Linked DNA regions of Homo sapiens: region 1 is linked to region 2. The links come from fine-mapping of genetic effects on gene expression. Tissue or cell type: whole blood. Region 2 holds a variant in brackets; the other region holds the start of a gene. All regions are shown on one strand. Distances are from middle to middle. Region 1 holds the start of PLEKHM3 (pleckstrin homology domain containing M3). Region 2 has its middle 28 kb from the start of PLEKHM3.

Region 1 (4,405 bases), 28 kb after region 2:
GATCATGACTGTTGGAGAGGCCCCATCCCAGACTTACTGTATCAGATTCTGCATTTTGACAGAATTCTTACCCGTTAAAGTTTGAGAAACACCATCCTAGAAGATTCTGTTCCATGTGAATTTTGAGAACCACCAATCCAATGGAAGACTGATCTGTGTAGCACAATGTAATGGGTACATTTATAAAGGAACACATGAGATCCTCTAGGAGTGCATAAAAGGAGCAGGTTCCCCTATCAGGCAAGGTTTCCAGAAGAGGTGTGATGTCATCTGCTTTTTTTTTTTTTTTGAGACAGCGTCTCGCTCTTTTGCACAGGCTGGAGTGCACTGGCTCAATATCAGCTCACTGCAACCTGCGTCTCCTGAGTCCAAACGATTCTAGTGCCTCAGCCTCCTAAGTAGCTGGGATTACAGGTCGTGTGCCACCATGCCTGGCTAATTTTCGTTTTAGTAGAGACAGGGTTTCACTATGTTGCCCAGGCTGGTCTCGAACTGCTGGCCTCAATCAATCCACCCGCCTCGACCTCCCAAAGTGCTGGGATTACAGGCGTGCACCGCCATGCTCTGCTAATTTTTGTATTTTTAGTAGAGATGAGGTTTTATCATGTTGGTCAGTCTGGTCTCGAACCGCTGGCCTCCAGCGATCCACCCGCCTTGGCCTCCCTAAGTGCGTGGATTACAGGCACGAGCTACCACACCCGGCCTTTTTTTTTTTTTTTTTTAGAGTGAAAGTTTATTAAAAAGCTTTAGAGTAGTAATGAAGGGAAGGAAAAGAAGAAAAGAACACTTGGAAGAAGACCAAGCAAGTGACTTGAGAGACCAAGCACCTGTTACCTGCTTCTTAAAGAGCAAAGAGAAATTAGCCAGCCTAAGTAAGAGGATGGGCCAGGAGTGAGAACTCTCATCAGAGGGAATCACATGTACAAAGTCCTGAGGCAAAAGAGAATACTGCAAATATTCTCTTTTGGTAATTAAAACAAAACAAAACAAAAAATGTACCTCTGGCCAGGTGAGGTGGCTCACACCTGTAATCCCAGCACTTTGGAAGGCAAGGAAGAAGGATTGCCTGAGGCCAGGAGTTCAGGATCATCCTGGGCAACACAGGGAGACCTTGCCTTTACAAAAAAAAAAAAAAGAGAAAGAAAGAAAAAAGAAGTTAGCCACGTTGTGGTGATGCGTGCCTGTAGTCCTAGCTACTCAGGAGGCTGAGTTGGGGGGATCCCTTGAACCCAGGAGTTCAGGGCTGCAGTGAGCTATGATCGTGCGACTGCACTCTGGCCGGGGCACAGAGTGAGATCCTGTCTCTAGCAAAACAGAAAAAAAAGTACCTCAAATTGCAGGGTTTAAAGAAAGCTTATTTAAACTTTGAATATCAACCAAAGGAAATTTTTTCTTAACTCAAAGCTTAAAGATTTGCTTATTAATCTTCTGGAGGGTGGGAAGGTGGGAAGAGGAATCAGAGTTTTAGATTTCTGTTTCATCCCTGACCCCTTTGACCTTTTTTTTTTTTTATCATTCCTTTGTTCATTCATTTATTCAGATATATATACATTGGGCCTGTGCTAGGTGCCTACTAGATGGTGGTGAGTGAAACTGAAATAGTGCCTGCCCTCAGGGAGTTTATAGGTGAGATGGGTGAGCGTGGGAAAACCAATAAAACTGATAAATAAGTGTGTACTTATAAAGTGAGAAAATGGCTAAGAAGTGTGCTATGATGGAAAACAGACAGGAAACTGCAAGGAAGGTCTGTCCAATCAGACCAGCATATCCCTGCAAAGCGACCACAGTCACTGCAGGTGGGATGTGGGCGGTCTTACCAGGCAGTCCTGCCCGCGTGCACACACACGCACACCCTATTTTGCTGGGAATCCGCAAGTGGGGGTGAAGACCTCACCTCAAAACCACCCCTTTTCAACCTGCGTAGGAAAGGACAGTGAAAACGGATTTTCACTGCAGCCCCAAAACCGGAAATGAGAAGCAATCTCCAGAATAGTCCCACTTTTGGAAAGAACTTATTTGAGTAATTAATTCCCTTAGACAAGGGAGCTGCTAAAAACCAGCCCGATCCTGACATGTTCTAAGTGACATTTTCCAATCGCAAACACCCATTTTGGCGTTGGGTGGAGCAGTGAGGAGACTCCACGACACACGCCATTGCTTTCACAATGTGTACAAGAGGAACTGTATATAAGAAAGCAAAGAAATAAGGAGGCCTGGCGGGTGCGGTCAGGCCTTGCCTAGCTGCCGGGTCCCTCGGGCAGGAAAGACTCGTCCTCGCGGCCTGGAACCTTGTGTGTCCGGCTCTGGCTGCCCGGGCCGCCGGCGGAAGCATTTCAGAGTGGGACCGCGAGAAGCCGCTTGTAAACAGAGCCGGGCCGGGATGGTCAGCGCCCGGGCGGGCTGTCACCGTGAGGCGGGCGGCAGGCTGCGGGAGTCAAGCCCCTCCAGGAGCGGACTGAAGGCCCCGCAGGTGAATGGAGAGTAGCAGCCGGGGCCCAGGTGAGCATCCGTCTGCTTCTGTGCTGCCTGGCCGGCCAGTTTGGGGGATGGGGTGGGGACGACTGCATTGTAAATATCCGAGCAGCTCCCAGGGATAGCAGTGATTTTGCTGTTTCTTGCATGCTCAGGTTTTTATTACGTGCTGGAGATTGTACCACACTGCAATGGCTAATGGGTGAGGGGAGATTACATGATGCATTGTCTGCTTATTTTTGTGAATCAGGTATGTAATAGGAGGAGAAAGTAGTTGAAATAGTAGGTGATCTTGTTGAGTGCGTTATTAGTATCCCTGCCATCCCCGCCTGGGGATTATAAAACCAAACCCCAGCAGAGCTTTTAACCTACATCAGGCTGGGGCTTCCAGAAAACGATTGTTCTTTCTGTCGACTCTGTCCGTTTTTAATGTATAGTAAATGACACCACATGACTGATGACAAGCATGGTTTGGTCTTGTAGGAAAGAATTATTAAGCTAAAAAATCAAGATAAGAAAATCTCACACTCATCCCTTAAACAAAAATAAATTACTACTGAGATATATATTTGGATGACAAATTGAGACTGGTCTGGATGTATACCTTGCAAAGCAAGACAAATTTGAATTTACCAGGTTAAACTGAGATTGAGCCATGCTGTTGTAAACTTATTTAGAAGTTTATTTCTCTCTTCTTTTTTCTTCCTTGGAAGGGACCAGAGAGAAACAGCTGAATTTTTTTCTCTATATTTTAAGTAATCGTAGTGAGTTGTGATTTGTATTTATAAAGTATTTTATTATAAAATACTACATGTAAATTATAATTGGCATACTTAAAATACAAGGCAGTTTTTGACTGACTGACTTCAAGAAAATGCCTTAACAAAAGCTGGGCTATATATCTAGTCTCTAAAAATATCAGTAGACATTTGTAACCTTGGTCACATAGTCTTTTAGACAGGAGATGAATATTAGGTTAAATTGCACCTACAATAGATAGATATACATAGAAGAAATGATACTAATTCCTGATGAGTTTTTCTTTACAATGAATATTTTTACAATGTCATGGTTTATAGCAAAAACTATAAAGCCAGACTACTTCAGTTTGAATTCCTGCTTGGTCACTTCCTAGTTGTGTAATCTTGGGCAGTTTACTTAGCGCTTCTGTTTCCTAATCTGTAGAATGGGAATAATAATAGTATTGACCTCATTAGGGTTTTTATTATTGTTATTTTATTTTATTTTATTTTATTTTATTTTATTTTATTTTGAGACAGGGTCTTACTCTGTCATTCGGGCTGGAGTACAGTGGCGTGATCATGGCTCACTGCAGTCTCGACTTCCTGGACTCAAGCGATCCTTCCACCTCAGCCTCCCTTGTGGCTGGAACCATAGGCACAAGCCACCACGCCTGGCTAATTTTTGTACATTTGGTAGAGACAGGGTTTCGCCATGTTGCCCAGGCTGGTCTTGAACTCCTGAGCTCAAGGCTTAGAACCGTACCTGGCATATAGTAATTGCTATATACATGTTTGTTAATAAATATATAAAATAAAAATATGCCAGTGTTGAAAGTGGAATGGTGATTACCAGGGCCTGGAGGGAGGCAGGCAATGGGGATTTGTTGTTTAATGCTGCGGTCCCCTGGTGGTTTTTGGCACCAGGGACCGGAAGACCATTTTTCCACAGAGCGGGTGGTGTGGGGTCGGGGAGTAGGGGGGTGATAGTTACGGGATGAAACTGTTCCACCTCAGATCATTAGGCATTAGTTAGATTCTCATAAGGAGCGTGCAACCTAGATCCCTCGCACGCACAGTTCACAATAAGGTTTGCGCTCCTATGAGAATCTAATGCTGCTGCCGATCTGACAGGAGGCGGAGCTCAAACAGCAATGCGTGGCTGGTCCATCGCTCACTGTTGTGTGGCCCAG
Region 2 (4,405 bases):
TTCCAGGTACTCCAAGTGCATTTGGACTCCCTGTTCTCTTAGCTTTGCTTTGCAGATTGGCCGTCTTCGTGGTAGGCTCGAAGTATCCATTTAGTCACCCTAGTGTGTTATCCAAATATTTAGAAGGAGAAAAATTGTGGGAAAATAACCTTTAATTTTACAATTCTCCAAAGGAAACTGTTCAAAATTAAGAGGTCTAAGAAGCTAAGAATGAGTGTTAATCTATTTTTCTGTTTATTACCTATCACTTTGGATAATCTGGAAATAATTTTGACAGTGGGATAAAAGTTGAAGTTGGGGTAAGAGTCCAAATTTTCGCAAAGTAGCTTACATCAGAATAAAGTCGCTGTCAATTAGATTGCTTGCATATAGATATGCGAGCTGTTACCCCTATCCATTACATAATCTTACTCCAGCAGGGGCTGCCAAAAACCTGTAGGCAGGAAAGATTTACACTCAGTTCTTCATAAGTACCCAAAAGAAAAGAAATCACTTTAGAATGATTATATAAGTTAAAGAACATGGCCAAGTTTGTGCCTTGAACTTTTAGTCTATCAATTAGCAATAGTAATTGCATACTGCTGAGATGTTTTAGAGACTGAGATGGTGTTTTAAAAGTGTTTTGTGCTATTCAGAGGGAAATGCAATTTACGTCATATTTTAGAATGTGAATTATGAAGGAAATTGTCTCTTTTTCTTCCTTATTCCCCTCTTCCCCCTCCTCTACCTCCTTCTCCTCCTCCTCTTCCTTTTCCTCTTCAGATTTTCCCTCTTTGCCTACAACATTAAGAGAGACTATTCACATTATAAAGACATTGATTTCCTTAAATGATCTGTAAATTCAATGTATATGCCAAATAAAACACCAAGGTGATTTTTTTCAACCTGACAAAAATAACACTAAAGTTCTTCAAGACATATAAATGGGCAATTAGAAAAACTCTGAAAAACAAGAGTAGTGAGAGGGTAATTAATACAACTATACATTAAAATGTATCATGGAGTTATAATAATTAAAATATCTTATTCTAGAGAAGAAATAGAATAGCTAAATAGAATAGAATGGAATAGAAGAGAATCAACAGAAATAAACCCAAATACGTATACAGATTTAATGTGTGAAAAAGGTAGATGAGTCGAATTTATAGGGGAGGGATGGGAGAAGGGAAGATGTATTAATCAATAGACAGTGATGAGAAAACTGGCTAGGAATGGAAAATAAAATAAAATGGATTCTTTACCATGCTCTTTATATTCCCAAATTTCCAGAGGATTCAAAGATAGCAATATAATACATACTCTATGGCCATACCACTCTGAATGCCCCCAATCTTATCTGATCTCAGAAGCTAAGCAGGGTTAGGTCTGGGGGCCTGCTTAATACTTGGATGAGAGAAATGTAATATAAACAAGTAAGTGTATATATGTGTATATATATGTATATATACACACACACACATACACATGCATAAGTATATATATACACACACATATACTTATATGTATATATTATACTTGTTACATATACTGGTTTTGAACTACTATTATATATATTAGATTATATAGTTGGTGAATTTATATATAATCTGGAGTATGAAATATATGTTAATCTAGGAGTTGTATATAATCTAGGAGTTTTTAAAAAACTGGTGAATTTATATATAATTAGGAGTTTTGAGTGAATTTATTTATATATAATAAATATATAAATAAATAAATTTATTCATTTATTGGTGAGTTTATTTATATATAATCCAGGAGTTTAAAAATAATTTCTAGGCTGGGTGCTGTGGCCCACACCTGTAATCCCAGCACTTTGGGAGGTCAAGGTGGGAGGACTGCTAGAGCTCAGGAGTTGCAGACCAGCCAGGCATGGTGGTGCACACCTATAGTCCAAGCTACTTGGGAGGCTGAGGTGGGAGGATGGCTTAAACACAGGAAGTTGAGGCTGTAATGAGCTATAATTGTGCCACTGCACTCCAGCCTGGGCAACAGAGTGAGACCCTGTCTCAAAAAAGAAAAAAAGAAAAGAAAACGTAAAATAAAATAATAAGAT[T/A]TTTTCTTCATTTTTTTTGTTTTATTTTTTATACCCACACTACACAGATGTAATATAAAAAGACTTTCTAGGCAAGACACACAATTCTAAAGTCTTAAAGGAAGAGAAAAATGTGAATATATACAAAGTGGAAAAAATATTGCAACATTTGGCAAGCAAAGAAAATCATTAATATACAACTTCTTGTACAACTCAGTAAGTAAAAACAAATCAAAAAGAAAATGGTCAAATCTATTAAAATCTTTGTCTCATTCACAATTAAATAACTGCATATAAAAATAATGAGTATATCCATATAATGAAATATTATCTGGCAATAAAAAGCAGAATTATTAAATAACTGCCAAAAAGTATAAATAACCCAAATTCTCATCAACTGATGAATGGATAAACAAAATGTGCTGTATCTATACAAAAGACTGTTATTCAGCCATAAAAAGGAATGAAAAACTGACACGTGCTACAACATGGATGAGCCTTGAAGACGTTATGCTAAGTGAAAAATGCCACACACGAGAGCATATGTTTTATGATTCCAATGACATAAAATGCTCAGAATACGTAAATCCAGAGAGACAGAAAGTGGGTTCATGGTCGCCTAAGGCGTGAGGGGGTGGGACTAGAGGGAAAATGGTGAGTGACTGCTAATAGATACAGTTTTGGGGGGAGGTCATGAAAATTGATTGTGGTGATGCTTGCACAACTCTGTGAAATACTAAAACCATTGAATTGTGCACTTCAAATGGGTAAACTGCCTGGCATATGAATTATATCTTAATAAAGCTGTTATTTTTTAAAAGCTTATGTAAAAAAAAAACCAATGAGCGATTTGAATTTGTTTATCATATTACAAAGCTAGATAATAATAAATGTTGTTAAGAATACAGACACAGTCATTCTCATGCTGTATTGGTAGGAGTGCAAATTGGTACACTTTTTTGAGGACAATTTAGCAATATCCTTCAAAATTTAAATACACCACATCCTTTAATTCTGCAATTCAAAAAATTACCATATGGATATACTTGCAAAAACTTGCCAATATAGATGTACAAGTATATCGTTTATAATAGAAAAATCTGAAAATCTGGAGCTAGCCATTCTGGGGACTATTATGCAGCCTTTTATTTTTTATTTTATTTCTTTTCTCTTTTTTTTTTTTTTGAGACAGAGTCTCACTCTGTCACCCAGGCTGGAGTGCAATGGCGCAATCCTGGCTCACTGCAAACTTCGCCTCCTGAGTTCAAGCGATTCTCCTCTCTCAGCCTCCTGAGTAGCTGGGATTATAGGCACATGCCACCACACCCAGCTAATTTTTATATTTTTAGTAGAGACGAGGTTTCACCACGTTGGCTAGACTGGTCTCAAACTCCTGACCTCAAATGATACACCCGCCTCAGCCTGCCAGAGTGCTGGGATTACAGGCATGAGCCACATGCCCGGCTTTATACAGCCTTTTAAAAATATTATAGTTATATGGGCTGATATGAAAGGATCTCCAAGAAAACAATAAAAATAACAAATATTTACTGAGCTTTTGCTATGTGACAGGCACTCTTCTAAGTCCTTTACATTCAATAACTCACTTAATCTTCTTTGGAACCCTATATTTTTATATCATCACCCTCATTTTCTAGATGGTGACACTGAGAGGCACAAATAGGTTTAAGCGACCTGCCAGAGATTGCATGGTAACTTAGTGGTAGACACAGAATTCAAAACCACTTGAATAAATTTAAAAAGTATACATCTATATAAATATGGCTTCATAGTTATTTTTTTCTTTCTAGGAGCATACGTAAGTAACTGTTTGAAGAGAGAGGTACTGAACTGCCTCCTGATTGGTTACTAGGAGGCAAATCAACAAAAGCTACAAAATGAGGTGGGTTTTTTTGTTTGTTTGTTTGTTTTTTAATGGAGGGATGGGAGTGGAGGGAGTTGTTAGTGTTTACTTTGTATGTTTCATGGTCTAATGTCTCTGTTACTGACTGGAAGCAGATTGCTGAACCCATAATTTGATTTGCCTGACATTTTTAGATATGAAAATCAAAGGTCAACCTAACATATCTAAAACTGAATGACTAATTGTCCTTCTGATCTTTTACTTAAATGAAACAACCAGTTTACAGACCTAATTTTCCCTTCTTAAGATGTTAATTCTCCCTTCTTAGGGTGTCTAAGACCTGACCCTTCTTTTTCAGTATAACTACATTATGTCTAGACTACTCCAATCTAGCATTCAACATTGGTTTTATCCCATTACTTTCTTGCACAAAAGCCTTCAAACTCCCAGTATTAGTCTGTTCTCACTCTGCTATAAAGAAATACCCGAGACTGGGTAATTTATAA

The links.
Region 1: PLEKHM3 starts here. The variant in region 2 is fine-mapped to the expression of PLEKHM3 in whole blood (TOPMed, PIP 0.95).

The regions. Positions count from the first base shown.
Region 1 is chr2:208,023,483-208,027,887 of GRCh38, reverse strand. PLEKHM3 (pleckstrin homology domain containing M3) reads left to right here and starts at 2,361. Exons shown (of 8, transcript NM_001080475.3): 1 at 2,361-2,499.
Region 2 is chr2:208,051,152-208,055,556 of GRCh38, reverse strand. It overlaps the pseudogene RNA5SP116. Among named protein-coding and RNA genes, the nearest start is that of PLEKHM3, 28 kb to the right of the region's middle. The variant T/A (reference allele first, on the strand shown) is at 2,057.